Linked DNA regions of Homo sapiens: region 1 is linked to region 2. Evidence: fine-mapped expression QTL. Tissue or cell type: whole blood. Region 2 holds a variant in brackets; the other region holds the start of a gene. All regions are shown on one strand. Distances are between the middles of the regions.

Region 1 (8,175 bases), 21 kb after region 2:
TCTGCAGCCTCCCTCCCTCTGCCCAGCCGTGTGGCAGTGTTCCCTGCAGCCAGCTCCCAGCCTGCTCTACTCCATGGTCTCTCCCTGTCACCACAATCGTTTCCCCATCACATTCTTACCCTCTATTCCTTGGTCCTCCTGATAGACCCTGGGATAGACCCTGGGCCAGAAGAGCCCTGAGTCAGCGCTGGACTAATTTCAGAAGTTCACAGAACTGCATTTGCTAGATTTTTTGAAATTATCTGGCCAGCTGCAATGGCTCACACCTGTAATTCCAGCACTTTGGGAGGCCGAGGTGGGTGGATCACCTGAGGCCAGGAGTTCGAGACCAGCCTAACCAACATGGTGAAACCCCATCTCTACTAAAAATACAAAAATTAGCCAGGCATGGTGGCAGCACGCTTGTAATCCCAGGTACTTGGGAGGCTGAGGCAGGAGAATCGCTTGAACTCGGGAAGTACAGGTTGCAGTGAGCCGAGATCGTGCCACTGCACTCCAGCCTGGGCAAAAGAGCGAGACTCCATCTCAGGGAAGAAAAAAAAAAAAAGAAAAAAAAAAGAAATTATCAACAGGTGCTCTGAGATGATCTATTTCCTAATTCCAGGAAAGGTGAGTTGAATGAAATTGGGTCTTAGAATTGAGCTCTGCAATAGCACTTGGACAAGAGACATCCCTAGGCAACTACAAACCCAGCGTCAGGGACCCATCTCAGGCTTCCTCTTATTCAACATTCCACACCTCTAAGGGAGCGTAGTCCCCTTGGGGAGCACAGCCTGCCCCTCTCAGCTCAGTGATGGCCATGAGGCATGTGTGCAGAGGTGTCGGTGCAGTGACAGAAGGAAGCCATGCCGGGAACCCCAAACACTGAAGCTGTGGTGGCCAGGAAAGAGGCTGGCCGGCTGGGAAGAAACCCCGATTTCTTGGCCACCCCGATGGCAGGATTTTCTGACTGCGGTCAGCTCACGCCGTGGTCAAGCATTAGGGGATGTGCCTCCTCTGTTGGCTGCAAAAGGCCAGCAGTGTGCAGCCAGCAGCACTGCCACAGGAAGAAAGGCAGCTGGTCAGCACTGCCCATGTGCCCCATCCACGCAAGGCCCTGAAAAATGAACTGAAACAGCAGGTGGCAGGACTTCTTTCTAATCTCAAGGAGTTCCACAACTGAAACTGAAGCAGCAGGAATGAGTAAGAGGCTTCCTCTACTCCTTCAAATGGGGCTGGAAGGAGGTGGAGAGGCACTGTCTATAGAGATTTCGGTGTGTCAGAAGGGTCCTGTCTGTGCCATCCAGTACAGTAGCCACTGGCCATGTGTGACGACTGAGCCCTTGAGAGGTGGTCAGTGTGACTGAGGAACTAATTTAACATTCTACACAGTGGCCGGGCACAGTGGCTCATGCCTGTAATCCCAGCACTTTGGGAGGCCAAGGCAGGCAGATCACTTGAGGCCAGGAGTTTGAGACCAGCCTAGCCAACATTGCAAAACCCTGTCTCTACTAAAAATACAAAAATCAGCCTGGCGTGGTGGCAGATCCCTGTAATGCCAGCTACTTGGGAGGCTGAGGCACGAGAATCACTCCAGCCTGGGCGACAGAGAGAGACTCTGTCTCACAAAAATAAAAGTAAAATAAATGGGCTAGGTGCGGTGGCTCACGCCTGTAATCCCAGCACTTTGGGAGGCCAAGGCAGGTGAATCACGAGGTCAGGAGATCCAGACCACCCTGGCTAACACGGTGAAACCCTGTCTCTACTAAAAATACAAAAAAATTAGCCGGGCGTGGTGGTGGGCGCCTGTAGTCCCAGCTGCTGAGGAGGCTGAGGCAGGAGAATGGCGTGAATCCGGGAGGCGGAGCTTGCAGTGAGCCGAGATTGCGCCACTGCTCTCCAGCCTGGGCGACAGGGCGAGACTCCATCTCAAAAAAAAAGAAAAAAAAAAAAAAAGTAAAATAAATGTACATAGCTATAATTTAAAAAGCTACATGTGGCTGGCAGCTACTGTTTTGCATGGCACAGCTCTAGAACCTCTGGGGGCTCTAACCAAAGTGCCCCCCATGCCCCTGGTCTTTCTTCCCAGTGTTCTCCCACTTTGGGGGTAGTTTCAACTCCCTGCCTTGGAAGGTGCCGGACCTCTCTCCCACCAAAACCTATGTTTGGGGCTGGCGTAGTGGCTCATGCCTGTAATCCCAGCACTTCGGGAGGCCAAGATGGGAGGATCACTTGAGGCCAGGAGTTCAAGACCAGTCTGGGCAACATAACGAAACCCTGTCTCTACAAAAAATACACAAAATTAGCAGGTGTAGTGGTGCATGCCTGTAGTCCCAGCTACTCAATAGGCTGAGGTGGGAGGATTGCTTGAAGCCTGGAGGTAGAGGCTGCAATGAGCGGTGATCACACCACCATAGCCTGGGCAACAGAGCGAGACTATGTCTCAAAAAAAAAAACATGTTTGGCCTACCCTAGGACAGTGTTCACAAACCATCTGCACTAGCTAATAAAGGGCTATTGGGGTAGGATGAGGTTAATCAAAGGGTGGACACCCATTAGCCAAGGCTGAGAAATCTTTTGCAGTTGCTTTCCTCAAAAGGGCTCAGGGGCCAGGCAGCCACACTTGGTCACCCAATGACCAAGGAATCTGCAGCTGCAGACCCCAGCAGCAGGGCCCCATTTCCTCACCTGAGGGTCAAAATGCCCCCACTCACCCGCTGCCTGTGTTTCCTGGGCTTCCGCTGCAGCCCTTCCACAAGGACCACGGCCTCCTCACCGCTCTCCGGCTGCTGCTCGCGTACCCGAGCCTGGATCTCCCCCGGCAGCACAGTCAGGAACTGCTCCAGCACCAGCAGCTCCAGGATCTGCTCCTTGGTGCGCAGCTCCGGCCGCAGCCAGCGGCAGCACAGCTCCCAGAGGCGGCTCAGGGCCTCCCGGGGCCCAGCCACCTCCTGGTAGCAGAAGAGCCGGAAGAGCTGGCGGAAAGTCTCAGGGCTGGGGTCCTCCGTCTCCACGGAGGGCTCCTCTTCCAAGCAGAAGTCCTCCTCCACCTTCACAATCAGGATCTCTTCCTGTTCCAGGTCCTGCTCCAAGGTTGGCAGGGGCTGGAGGCCAGGGACAGTGGCCATTGCTTCCGGTGGGCCTTGTTCCTTTTCAGGCCTTAGAGTTGAACCTGTCTCTCTCTATACCTCTGGCCAGACACAGGAAGAGAGTTTTTTTCAGGGCCCTGTGGAGAGACGATAAAACCATCTGAAGGGCAGCCCTGGGGCTGGATAAGCCCTTTGGCCTGGGAAGCCCCTGCCCTGGTTCCAAGGCCAGCTCACCCCACCATGGAAAAGGAAAAGGAAGTGGATGAATGTCATCTTTGTTATTAACCCCCTGTTAATTCCCGGGTAATTTACTGAAGGGCTCTGGGCTTTGCTTCCTCACTGGGCAAACAGAGATGATAACAGGACCTACACACACAGGTTGCTGACAGAACTAAAAGGGATGGCTGGGGGCAGTAGCTGACGCCTGTAATCCCCGCACTTTGGGAGGCAGAGGAGGGCAGATCACGTGAGTTCAGGAGTTGACCACCTGGTCAACGTGGTGGAACCCTGTCTCTACAAAAAATACAAAAATTAGCCCGACATGGTGGTAGCACATCTGTAATCCCAGCAACTCGGGAGGCTGAGACAGGAGAATCGCTTGAACCCGGGAGATGGAGGTTGCAGTGAACTGAGATAGCGCCACTGCACTCCAGCCTGGGCGACAGAGAGAGACTCAAACAAAAACAATCTAAAAGGGATGTTTGCGGTCAGAGCTCGAGAATCGTTATTTTCCATGATTAGAGTGGGTCCTATATGGAAGGGGTTCCTTTGGAAATCTGATGAAAAGTAGGGCCTTTCTGCAGACTCTGCCTCAACTTGATCCCCGGTGTCCAGGTCTGGCGAACCCTGAAGCCCCTACGCGGCCCCGTCAGGCACCCCCGCGTGGGTGGTCACGACAGCCCCCCAATTCCAGGGTCCTGGGAGAGCTGGGACCCCCAGGCCGGGCTGCTTTCCCGTCTCATCCCTCAGGTGGAGGGTGAGCGGTACCCGAGGCCGCGGCACAGACCCGGGTGCTGGCGCGGGCCGCGAAATCGAAGCTTCGGCCGGGACCCGCGTCCCCGCGCCCCCCGCACTCACTGGAAGCGCTGCCGGCCGTGGGCAGTTCGGGGCAGGACCGGAGCGGCGGGTCTCGGCGGGAGTAGGACTGCGGGCCTCAGGCTTGGCAGCCAGGGACGCCAGAGCCGGGGCCGAAGACCCTAAACCAGGGGTGCAAACCAGGCCGTGCGGGTGGGCCCGCAGGCGGCATTGTGGGTAACGTAGCCGTGGCACCATTGGCTAAGCCGGCCGTTGGGGGCGTGGCAACACGGCCGAGTGGGCGGGTCCGCGACGTGCACTGTGGTTAATGTGGTCCTCAAAGGCACGCATTGTGGGTAACGTAGTCCAGCACCTCGGTGACCGCGCGAGCGTGCGGCGACTCTGCAGCCTCTGGGCTACTTTCCCAGTCACTGTTCCACACCCGCTCCGCTCTCCTCTGGCCGCCTCCTCCATCTTTAAAGCCAGCAAAGTCGTCCGGGCACGGTGGCTCACACCTGTAATCCTAGCACTTTGGGAGGCCGACGCGGGCGGATCACCTGAGGTCGGGAGTTCGAGACCAGCCTGACTAACGTGGAGAAACCTGGGCGTGGTGGTTCATGCCTGTAATCCTAGCTACTCAGGAGGCTAAGGCGCAGGTTGCAGTGAGCCGACATCCTGCCATTGTCCTCCAGCCTGGGCAACAAGAGCGAAACTCCATCTCAAAAAATAAATAAATAAATAATAAATAAATAAAATAAATAAAGGCAGAAGTTGTTCAAGATAAAACTGGAAGAGATGCCAAGTGCTTGCGCCCACCCTCCCCCAAGAGGGCCCCCAACAACGTCCAACCCCAAATATCCCTTGTCCTGCCTGCTTCTTTCTGACAACATAATAATGGGCATCAATCTTTGTTGTTGTTGTTAGAGATGAAGTCCCACCATGGTGCCTAGGCTGGTCTCAAACTCCTGGGCCCAAGCAATCTTCCCGCCTCAGCTTCCCAAAGTGTCAGGATTACAGGTGTGCCCAGCCAGGTATCAATTCTTGTATGTATGTATTTATTTATTTAGAGACAGGGTCTCACTCTGTCGCCCAGGCTAGAGTGCAGTGGCTCGACCTTGGCTCACAGCAACCTCCGCCGCCCGGTTTTAAGCAATTCTCCTACCTAACCTCCCGAATAGTTGGGATTACAGGCACGAACCACCAGGTCCGGCTAATTTTTGTATTTTTAGTAGAGATGGGGTTTCCCCATGTTGCCCAGGCTGGTCTCCAACGGCCTCAAGCAATCCACCCACGTCAGCCTCCCAAAGTGCTGAGATTACAGGAGTAAGCCACCGCTCCCGGTCGCATCAATTCTTGAGCATCAAGCAAGCAAAACACATTTGTACTTCGTTTCTTCCTCATTTAGTAATAGAGGTACTATAACTAGACCTACCGGTTCAACAAAACAAAACAAAACCCTGAAGCTCTGAGAGTTTTAAGTATTGAACCCCCCAGAGAAGGTCAAACAGGAAGTACAGAAATGGGATTGGAACCCAAATCTTTGATTCCAGAACTTCAGCTCCTAACTACCAGGTTAACGTAGTTTGCCCCTAATCCTAACTTGGGCATCCTAAGGCCCGTCTCCTATGCTGGATTCTCGCTGCTTTTCCTCTTTGGTTGAACATGATCCGGAGTTTCCCTCTGCCTGGGGTGCCCAGGAAAGAGTCCCAGCACCGAGTTCGGGTGAGCAGCAACGCAGCATACACAGCAGGCGTACACTCAACGTACGCCCCGCCCCGCACAAGCTCCGCCCCGCATGCGCGCCCCGCCTCGCATCCCGGATCTACCCCCGGAATCTCGCGCGTCTTTCCCAAAGCATCGGCTAGGACTCAGCCCGCCGGAAACAAATTTGGGGACGCCGGATTCAGGAAGCTGGCAGGACTACATTTCCCAGAGCGCCCCGCGCCCTCCCCGGAGGCAGATTCCTGGGCGCTCTAGAGGGGGTGGGTTGGCGGCCTGGAGGGTCTCCTCAAGTGGCGGCACTGCCAGGGGCTCGGAGGAAGGGGCTGCAGTCTCCCGGTGGCAGCGTCCTTGTCGTCGAGACTGCGGGCGGTTCCCTTGCGCGCCCTGAACCTCAGTTTCCATATCTGTTAATGGGGGACATTAACCCTCAAGGTTGTAACTCATTCAAGACCATTCATCCAGGCATAATAAATGCATAAACGCTGCACGTTGAGTCCTCCCAACTGCCCCCTTAACTAGGCGCTCGGGTGATGGAGTGGTGGCAGGTGCCTGCTTTCATGGAGCTTGCCATGAGAGGCATACAGTGGACAAAATTACCATGAGAGGCATACAGTGGACAAAATTGCACGAAGAATTGTTTAATCACTTCTTTGGCAAATGTTAGCAAGCGGCGTAAAAGAGGGAACCTGATACCTTCAGGGTGGAAGTGACAGTTGAGCAGCCTAGGGTTAACCTGGGGAACCGGTGGGGAGGATTCCAGACAGCAGGAGTGAAAAGTGCAAAGGTCCTGGGGCCGGAGAGAACACGGTGCGTTTGAGGAACAGAATGGAGACCAGAGATTGGGAGATGTGGCTGGAGGGATGGGCAAGGCCTGACCATACTTGGAGACTCTGGTGAGGATTAAGGATTTTATCCTTGGAGTCAATAGAGTTTGGGGTTTTAAGTAGGATAGCATCGTGATCAGATAAGAAGCTTTGTGGAGTACAGATCTCAGAAAGACTGGAGAGGAGCAGTGAGACTAGCTGGAAGCTCCTGGAGTGGTCCAGAGTTGGGGTAACTAGTGATGGTGGTAGTCACTGACAAGGATCTGGCCAAGATTCCTGGAGCACATTCAACAGTGCTTGGTGGTTGATTAGCTTGGGGTGGAGGAGGGAGACAAGGATAACTCCTTTGTACAATGGGGATGGTAACATCACCTGCAGTAGGCACCATTATGGTAAAGAGACAGAACAGAACGTCAGACACATATAGGCTTAATATGTCCTAATTCTGTTAGTAATAAAGACTACCTCTGTGTTCAGGGCAGTGTTGTTTGTAATGGCAAAACCGAAAACAGTCTAAATGTTAGTCAACAGGAGAATGATGGATAAATCTCACGGAGGCTATGCCAAACAAAAAAAGGCAAGTGGCAATATGATACAATTTTCATAAATTTTGAAAATGCAAAACAATTCTACATATGATTTAGAGACATGTATGCGGTTCAAAGAAATGTTTGGGACTTGGATGAACACCAAATTCAGGATGGTGATGGGGCAAACGTTGAAGAGGGATGTGATGGGGGGAAGGTTCAGGGGGCAAAAACTGCAAGTTTTAATGTGCTTTTTATTTATTTTTAATTTATATATTTATATTTTTATATTTATTTATATTTTTTTATTTATTTTTACTTATTTTATTTTTTTTTGAGACAGACTCTCACTGTTGCCCAGGCTGGAGTGCAGTGGCGCAATCTGGGCTCACTGAGACCTCCGCCTCCTGAGTTCAAGCGATTCTCCTGCCTCAGCCTCCCAAGTACCTGGGATTACAGGCATGCACCACCACACCCAGCTAATTTTCGTATTTTCAGTAGAGACGGGTCTTCACCATGTTGGCCAGGCTGGTCTTGAACTCCTGATCTCAGGTGATCCACCCTCCTTGGCCTCCCAAAGTGCTGGAATTATCAGGTGTGAGCCACCGCGCCTGGCCATTAATGTGCTTTTTAAAAACAACAACAAAAGCCATTATTTTGAATTTGTATTCATGAAGTATTAAAACCTACCAAATGTTTTAATAAATAATCTTAAATAGGCCAGGTGCGGTGGCTCACGCCTGTAATCACAGCACTTTGGGAGGCCGAAGCAGGCAGATCACTTGAGGTCAGGAGTTCAAGACCAGCCTGGCCAACATGGCAAAACCCCGTCTCTATTAAAAATACAAAAAATTAGCCAGGCATAGTGGCACACACCTGTAATCCCAGCTACTAGGGAGGCTGAGGTAGAAGAACAGCTTGAACCAGGGAGGCGGAGGTTGCAGTGAGCCAAGATTGCACCACTGCACTCCAGCCTGGGCGACAGAGCCAGATTCCGTCTTAAAAAAAAAAAAAAAAAAA
Region 2 (8,175 bases):
AGGGAACCAGCAGGATGACAGTGCCGGTTTAATGAGATCATAAGAAACTGGGATTTTGGCCAGGTGTGATGGCTCACGCTTGTAATCCCAGCACTTTGGGAAGCCAAGGCAGGAGGAAAATCTGAGGTCAGGAGTTCGAGAGCAGCCTGGCCAACATGGTGAAACCGTGACTCTATTAACAATACAAAAATTAGCCAAGTGTGGTGGTGCGCGCCTGTAGTCCCACTATTTGGGAGGCTGAGGCAGGAGAATCGCTTGAACCCAGGAGATGGGGATCACGCCCCTGCACTCCAGTTTGGGTGACAGAGCGAGACTCCATCTCAAAAAAAAAGAAATTGGGATTTTGTAAAACACTGGGGAAAAAGAGAGGAATGCAGAGATACGCTTGTCACATTCATGTCCTAGAGGAGTTATCTTGTCTACTGGACAGAAAAGTAACCATCACACCGTCTCGGTTTTACACATTTTGGATAATTTTTCTTAACAGGTTAGAGAAAACTGGCACCAGGTATACACAGAAGTCATCTTTACTACTGTTTAAATCAACCGTTCTTTCTGCTCACCTAAAAACTTATTTTTCTCCACTTAGAGGGCTGCAAAGAGTTGAAAGGTCATATGATAAACATGAATTCTTGATTAATTTCCTCCCTCCTCCTCAGACTCACTCTGCCCCTAAGCACTCACTGCCAAGCCTTCCAGTTTTAGCTCCTGCCTGGAACAGCTTGATTCTTAAAAGAACAAAATTTTTTAACCTCCAAACATTGTGAACCTGTATGAACCTAAATAGTGTTTCTGAAAACAACACAGGGTTTGGCTGGGCTCGGTGGCTTATGCCTGTAATCACAACATTTTGGGAGACCCAGGCAGATGGATTGCTTGAGGTCAGGCATTCAAGACCAGCCTCGCCAACATGGTGAAACCCCATCTCTACTAAAAACACAAAAATTAGGCTGGGCGTGGTGGCTCACACCTGTAGTCTCAGCACTTTGGGAGGTGAAGGCGGAGGTGGAGGCAGGTGGATCACCTGAGGTCAGGTGTTTGTTCGAGACCAGCCTGGCCAACATGGTGAAACCCCATCTCTACTAAAAATACAAAAAAAAAAAAAAAAAAAATGAAGGGTGTGGTGGCGCATGCCTGTAATTCCAGCTACTTGGGAGGCTGAGGCAGGAGAATCACTTGAACCTGGGAGGTGGAGGTTGCAGTGAGCTGAGCTCGCACCACTACACTCCAGCCTGAGCGACAGAGTGAGACTCGGTCTCAAAAACAAAACAAAATGAAACAACAATACAGGGTTTCCTTCGGGTCAGACAACGTCTTTGTGCCAAAAACAAAAGTGAAGTACTGATCCCCAAGAAAGCATAGGAAGGAGGTGGCAAAGTGCAGGCCCACCTTAACGGAGGCGTTCAATCTGTAATGGAAAGGCGGGGTCAGCCTATTTGCAAACTCTGTCATGCACTGAATTCCTGATTTCTACCCCCAACATCCTGTGACCATCTCCATGGGTCACAGCAGCTGTGAAGCAGGTACTTGTGCCTCTGGGACCCCTCAGCATCCTCATAATCACTGGTTTTAATGATTTCAGCAACTTGAAGCGTGGGATTTGGATGACATCCTTCAGAGTCTGGCGGGACAAGAAGACAACCAGGGAAATCGTGCACCTGGAACTGTGTGGTGGGCAGCTGACCACCGCCAAGTTCAAGGTCTGACCTTGAACACTGGAGCCCACGTGAATCCCCACAAGCAGCACCTTCCTGGGCCCCTCAGACACAGAGGGCTGCAGGCTGGTCACAGACAGTCCTGCAGCCCACACAAGTCTTCCCTGCTGGCCCCGCCCTAAACACTCATGCTGCCAGTCCCCAAAAGACTTCATTCATTCAACATATATGTGACCGCCTGCTACGTGCCAGGCGTGGGCCAGGTCCTAGGGACAAAGGAGAGGCCTCCGCACCCCACCCCATGACCCATACCTCCTCTTCCCCACCTCCCTGGGCCAGCCTGCCTTCCTTCTCCCTCCTCCTCCTTCCTGGGGGAAGGAAGCCCCACCTTCTGTGCGCAGTCAGCTCCTAAGCACGCTCCCGCTTCCCCTGGCCTCCCCATTTAAAAAGGGAGGCAAAGGATGTCACCACTGTCACTACACTCATGGCTTTGCTCTGGGAAGTCCTGCAAATAAAATGAAAGTTCTCCAACCCCTCCCTATCCACTCGGGCCACAAAGGCGAGGGGAGGCAGGTCTGAGGCAGAGGAGCCAGGGCAGGTGCGGCGCTTCCGCCTCTGGTCCCAAAGCAAAGACTCCCCTGTGACTGACAGCCCGTGTTATGTTAAATACATTTTGTTGGTTTGTAATTCAAATCCCATAAAGCAGGAGGTAGAGAGCCAACCATTCTGGAGGACATGTGTGTGCATGTGTATGTGTGTGTGTAACTGGCACTCCCTTTGTGGAGGGGAGTAGGGCAGAATGTATTCTTTTTTTTTTTTTTTTTTTTTTTTGAGACAGAGTTTCACTCTTGTTGCCCAAACTGGAGTGCAATGGCACGATCTCGGTTCACTGCAACCTCCACCTCCCGGGTTCAAGCGATTCTCCTGCCTCAGCCTCCTGAGTTGCTGGGATTACAGGCACGTGCCACCACGCCTGGCTAATTTTTTTTGTATTTTTAGTAGAAACGGGATTTCACCATGTTAGCCAGGCTGGTCTCGAACTCCTGACCTCAGGATCCGCCTGCCTCAGCCTCCCAAAGTGCTGGGATTACAGGCGTGAGCCACCGCGCTTGGCCGAATGTATTCTCTGTTTTAAAGGCACATAACCCTTTAATCAAGCTATTGCAATTAGAAAATCTGTCTTACACTCTGACTCTAGTAGGTAAAGATGTGTGTTCAGAGCTGTTTGCTGCAGTGTTGTTTAAAAATCTGAAAAGCTGGAAACAACCCATATTCAGGAGGAGTCCAGCTAGATCGTTTTAGCACAGAATACACTGCGGCTCGATGAGGGGATCTCCGTAGGTTAACGTGGAAGCATGTAATATACAAAGTGAAAAAAGTGAAGTTGAAAAAAAACCTATAGAGGATGACCCTATTTTTTTTTTAAGTCAACACACAGAACTGTTCATTATGATCACCTGTGACAAGTGGGACCGGGGTGTGAGGAAGTGGGATAAACTTAAAAATACGTCACTCCTACTTCACCAAGCCCTTGTGCCACAGGCCCTGCTCATAAAGATTCTGCCCCCCTCAGCCCTGCTGAGCTAGAGGTGGAGTCCTCAGAGGGCTGAGTAGGGAGAGGGCTGGGCGGGGGCAGTGGAGGAGCCTGAGGTCCATTCACATGTGGAGACCCCAGGGGTCCTGAGGCTCCAGCTGCTGTAAGTCACAAGTGGGCCAAGTCCCCACTAATCAGCCTCTCCTTTGGCCATCCTCAGACCGCATGGTGCCGAGCGCCCACAACAGGCTCATGGAACAGCTGGCCCTCCTGTGCACCACGCAGTCCAAGGCCTCTGCTTGTGCCCGGAAGGTGCCTGCCGACACTCCCCAGGACACCAAAGAGGCAGATTCAGGAAGCAGGTGGGACTTGTAGCCAGGCCCGGCTCCTGTGGTCCTTTAGAATGGCCCCATGGTTTTGTAGCACTGACTGGGCCTACCAAGGGCGGGGCACTCCATGTGCATTTTCTCAGTCACTCTCAAGCATCTGATCAGGCAGTCGCTCCAGTCATCCCCATTTTAGAGATGGGGAAACCAAGGCTCAGAGAGGTTGACTCTCTCTGGCCATAAATGGCAGGGCTGGGACTCAAGCCCTCAAGTACCTGCTCTTTCCCCAAACCCAACGGGAACCCTCCTTTCAATGGGAGGCCATGAGGCCTCCCTGAGAGTAGGAAGGTTATCATGTGACCCTGCCCCTCTGGCCACAGCTGATTGGTCCAGCTCTGGGCATGTGACCCCAGCTGCGGGATTTTTCAATCTCTGTGTCTCTGTGTAGGGGTGGAAGGGCAACAGCCACCTGTCCTGCCACAGGGAGAAAGGCAAGCTGCAGTGAAGCTGGGAGAGGCAGAGGTGGAGGCAGGGCCCCAGGGTCCCGTAAGGCCCCTCTATATGCCTGCCCTCCCCACACTTTGGTTGCTCCGCACTTGAGGAATCTGAGAACCAGTGAATCCCTTTTCACCTGACCAGCAGTGGGTTTCTGTGTCTGGAAACCAAAAGTACCTAACAGAAGTGGCTACACCTGGCTGGGCGCGGTGGCTCATGCCTATAATCCCGGCACTTTGGAAGGCCGAGGCAGGCAGATCACCTGATGTCAGGAGTTCGAGACCAGCCTGGCCAACATGGTGAAACCCCATCTCTACTAAAAACACAAAAAAATTTTCCAGGCATGTTGGTGCATGCCTGTAATCCCAGCTACTTGGGAGGCTGAGGCAGGAGAAATCTCTTGAACCCAGGAGGCGGAGGTTGCAGTGACCAAGATCATGCCACTGCAGTCCAGCCTGGGCGACAGAGCAAGACTCTGTCTCAAAAAAAAAAAAAAAAAGAAAAAGAAAAAGAAATGGAGAGAACTGCAGTGTTAACCATGGCAGCCATTAGCCGTGTGTGGCTACTAAACACCTAACGTGGTGAATGTGACTGAGGAACTGAATGTTTTATGCATTGGATTTAAACTGGCTTAAATGTAAACTTAGCCACTTGTGCCAAGTGGCTACACTTACCACAGATAGAGAGCATGTCCATCATGAGGGACGTTCTGTTGGCCAGTGGTGGCCTAAATCTCGCATGCTGTTCTGAAGAGTAAAAGAGCAAATGTGTTTAATGTGCCCGTCTGTAGAGAGTGGGCACTCACTGGGTGGCAGCCACGAGCACTGTGACTGGACAAACCCAGCGCAGGTCACAGAGTTATCACAGAGAACTGACTCCACAACACCTGCTTTTCTCATTTCAGATGTGCCTCAAGGAAGCAGGGCT[C/T]CCAGGCTGGGCCAGGCCCGCAGCTGGCCCAGGGCATGAGGCTTAACGCAGAGTCCCCCACCATCTTTATTGACCTGCGGCAGATGGAGCTACCAGACCACCTGTCCCCAGAAAGGTCCGGAGGGCAGTGACTACCCCATACCAGCCTCTACTTTGCAGAGTTGCCTGTTGACCGCACAGAGCCTCTGGTGGATCCTGATGGGGAGGAACAGGGACTTCAAAAGGCTTGGATCAATTCTCAATTGAAAAGTGCTGGCCTACAGTCCCCCTGGGTCCCTGCAGGGAGGGAAGAGGGGCATGAGGCACACCTCCTCGGGCTGGGCTCTATGCAATAGAGCCCAACACGTCTAGGCTGGAGGGCATCACCCACACCTGTCCTCACCTCCTGGCAGGACGTCCACCGGCCTCCAGTGTGGCTGCTGACCTCTTGCATTGGGTCACCAGCAAAGCCCGAGTGCTTCAAGCCCCAACAAGAGTTGGAACACCAGGTGGAGTGGGCACATCCAGAAACCCATTTCTCTCCCTGCAGCTCCAGCCACAGCTCCTCTGACAGTGAGGAGGAGGAGGAGGAAGAGATGGCAGCTCTGGGAGACGCAGAGGGGGCATCTCCTTCCTCCCTGGGGCTACGGTAACCACCCAGGGGCCTCTCGCCACCTGCAGATGTCCCACCTCTGCTTTCTGCAGCAAGCCCTCCACCTGGCACATTTACCGCCTGTGGTGAGGTCTTGCTGCACCCACCGCACAGGGTGAGGGGGACGGCACAGCTTTCATCATCCTGCCCACGTCCACTGGGTCCCAGCAGTGGCAGCAGTGATGGGCTGCCTGAATTGCATTCTTGCTCTGAAATGGGAGCTGGGCTCATCTGCTTTTCTCCTGTTTCAGTAAGGAGGGCTGGGAGGGGCGGCCCCCACGGGGTTGAGTGAATTTGGTCTCATTGTGTCACAGGACCTGTACCGGGAAAAGCCAGCTTCTCCAGCAGCTCAGGGCCTTTCAGAAGGGGACAGCCCAGCCCGAGCTGCCTGCCAGCAAGGGGCCCGCGGGTGGGAGGGCTCAGGCCCCTGAAGACACAGCTGGATCACGAACTGGGAGGAAGCAACACATGAAGCTCTGTGCCAAGGGGCAGAGCGCCCAGGCTCGACTCCCAAGAGGCAGGCCCAGAGCCCTGGGGGATGTTCCTGAGCCAGGGGCAGCCAGGGAGGCCCTGATGCCTCCTCTGGAGCAACTATAGCTGCCTCAGGTAGTGGGATCCCAGGAGTGGGCAGGGGCGGGCTGACTTGCCATGGACCCTGGGCCCCGGTGTCCCCTTGTTGTTCCTGCATTTCCACTAGCAGGGGCATTCCAGAGGCAGGGACCCTCAGACTTTGGACTGTTGCCCACCCTGTTAGAGCTCAGTCACAGGTGCATGAACTTAGAGGAAGGATGCAGATACAAATCTGTATGTAACCTGTGACAACAGCTTTGGGATAAAGGGGCCTGGTCCTCTGAGGGAGATGGGCAGGGACAGCAGGAGGACGGGGTGCTGCTCTCTGCGGGACTCTGAGGCTCTTCATCTTTCTCCAGTTCTGCATTTTTTTAAACAGGCATCTATTATTTCCATCAATAAGGTCTTTTTAAAAACCAAGTAAAACGTATTTAGAGGATTTTAGGGTTGAAAGAGACCTAAGCCTTATTTTCTGGCTTCCTGCATACTTGCTATTTTGGGCACCTAAATTAACACACGACACACACATGCCTACCCACACAGATCTAATACACGTGGTTTTTTCTCTTTTCGAGACGCAGCAGCTGGGACTACAGGTGCACACCACCATGTCCAGCTAATTTTTTTTTTTTTTTTTTTTGTAGAGATGGGGTCTCACGGTGTTGCCCAGGTTGGTCTGGAACTCCTCTCAATCCTCCTGCCTAGGCCTTCCACAGTGCTGGGATTATAGCACTGTGAGCTGCCAGCCTGGCTTTTAATGAACTTTTTGAAAGAGGAGTAACGAGAATTTGCTTTCTCTTTCTCTTCTTTACCTAAGATAGAAAGGCACACATAGATTCTCAAGGCCTTTGACCTTTATGAATCTAGACAGAATACTGGAAACCCCTGGAAATGCTGTCCTGTGTAGAATGGAGCAGCGGCCTCACTTGTTGATCACCAGCAAAAACTGGGGACATCTGCTTGCCCCCTGCCAAGACCCGGCCCCTCCACAGGACAAGCCTGGTCTTCCTGGGTCCTGTTCCTTTGCCAGCACCGTCTTGCAGCCCCGTCTTCACGGGATGCTTTTGTAACTGCTGTGATCAGCCCTGACCTGGGCACCTGTTTGTCTCCCCAACCTTGTCTCCAGGATGTGTCCTGCTGTCTGCCCCGTGGGAAGAGCAGAGAAATCATCACCACCTTGGGCCCCACGGTGCCACGGGCTCAGGCAGCACAGTAGGGCGCCGGGCCTTTGGGACAGTGTCCCAGCTTCCCCTGGGGTTCACCCCTGGCTGCCAGGCCACTGAGGATGGGCAGGGGTCTCTTCTCATCAAGCCTTGTACCAGGCAAAAGACAGGCCCTGCTTGGCCGTGGTCACTGGCCGCCAAGATCAGGGCTACAGATGTCTGCTCTCTGGACCCCACGTGATCTGGCCACTGGGGACCCCCACCCGACCCCACTCCCAATGATGAGGGGCATTTTCATTGCAAGTCAAAGGCAAGACAGGCTTCCATAAAGTCCCAGGAGGTCCCTCCTGTAGGGCACAAGGCCAGGCTGCCTCCCAGCCCCCAGGCCCTCTCCCACCTACAGAGACCCTCCCCTGCCCCCTCCACTCCGGGGCCTGTGCCGCCAGAACCGGGCTCTGCCCCCATACGCTGCCCTCGCAGCCTGGCGGCCTCCGCTGTGGCTGCCTAGCTGTCAAGAGCAAAGGCTTTTTTTTTCTTCAACCCCATTTTCTTCCATTTCTCCCACCTTTTTAATGCCAGTAACCTCACTGAGAATGTTTTACAGTGATGGAAAATAAACTCTGTTCCAAGTTCAACTCTGAATTACTGTGTCTGTCAAGGCAAGGGGAGTGAGGTAGGAAGTCAGACCTGCGTCCAAAGCTGGCTCTGCCACCTGGGCAAGGTTTTCACGCTCCCAGTGCCCAGTTCCTCCACCCACAGAAGGAGAATCATGGCCGGGCGCGGTGGCTCACGCCTGTAATCCCAGCACTTTGGGAGGCCGAGGTGGGTGGATCACAAGGTCGGGAGTTCAAGACCAGCCTGACCAACATGGAGA

The links. PIP is the estimated chance that this variant, and not a neighbour inherited with it, causes the effect.
Region 1: it holds the start of ZNF500, and the variant in region 2 is fine-mapped to the expression of ZNF500 in whole blood (TOPMed, PIP above 0.99). The same link has a PIP of 0.9 or more in spleen and thyroid.

The regions. Positions count from the first base shown.
Region 1 is chr16:4,762,872-4,771,046 of GRCh38, forward strand. It overlaps ZNF500 (zinc finger protein 500), which reads right to left and starts at 4,291. Exons shown (of 6, transcript NM_021646.4): 1 at 4,146-4,291; 2 at 2,694-3,205. The coding sequence starts at 3,107. RefSeq lists a silencer at 4,038-4,337 and an enhancer at 5,530-5,609.
Region 2 is chr16:4,741,461-4,749,635 of GRCh38, forward strand. It overlaps DNAAF8 (dynein axonemal assembly factor 8), which reads left to right. Exons shown (of 10, transcript NM_139170.3): 5 at 1,583-1,700; 6 at 3,410-3,551; 7 at 4,915-5,052; 8 at 5,467-5,565; 9 at 5,883-6,174; 10 at 7,265-7,936. The coding sequence ends at 6,165. It overlaps ZNF500 (zinc finger protein 500), which reads right to left. Exons shown (of 6, transcript NM_021646.4): 6 at 6,779-8,175. Among named protein-coding and RNA genes, the nearest start is that of DNAAF8, 11 kb to the left of the region's middle. The variant C/T (reference allele first, on the strand shown) is at 4,938.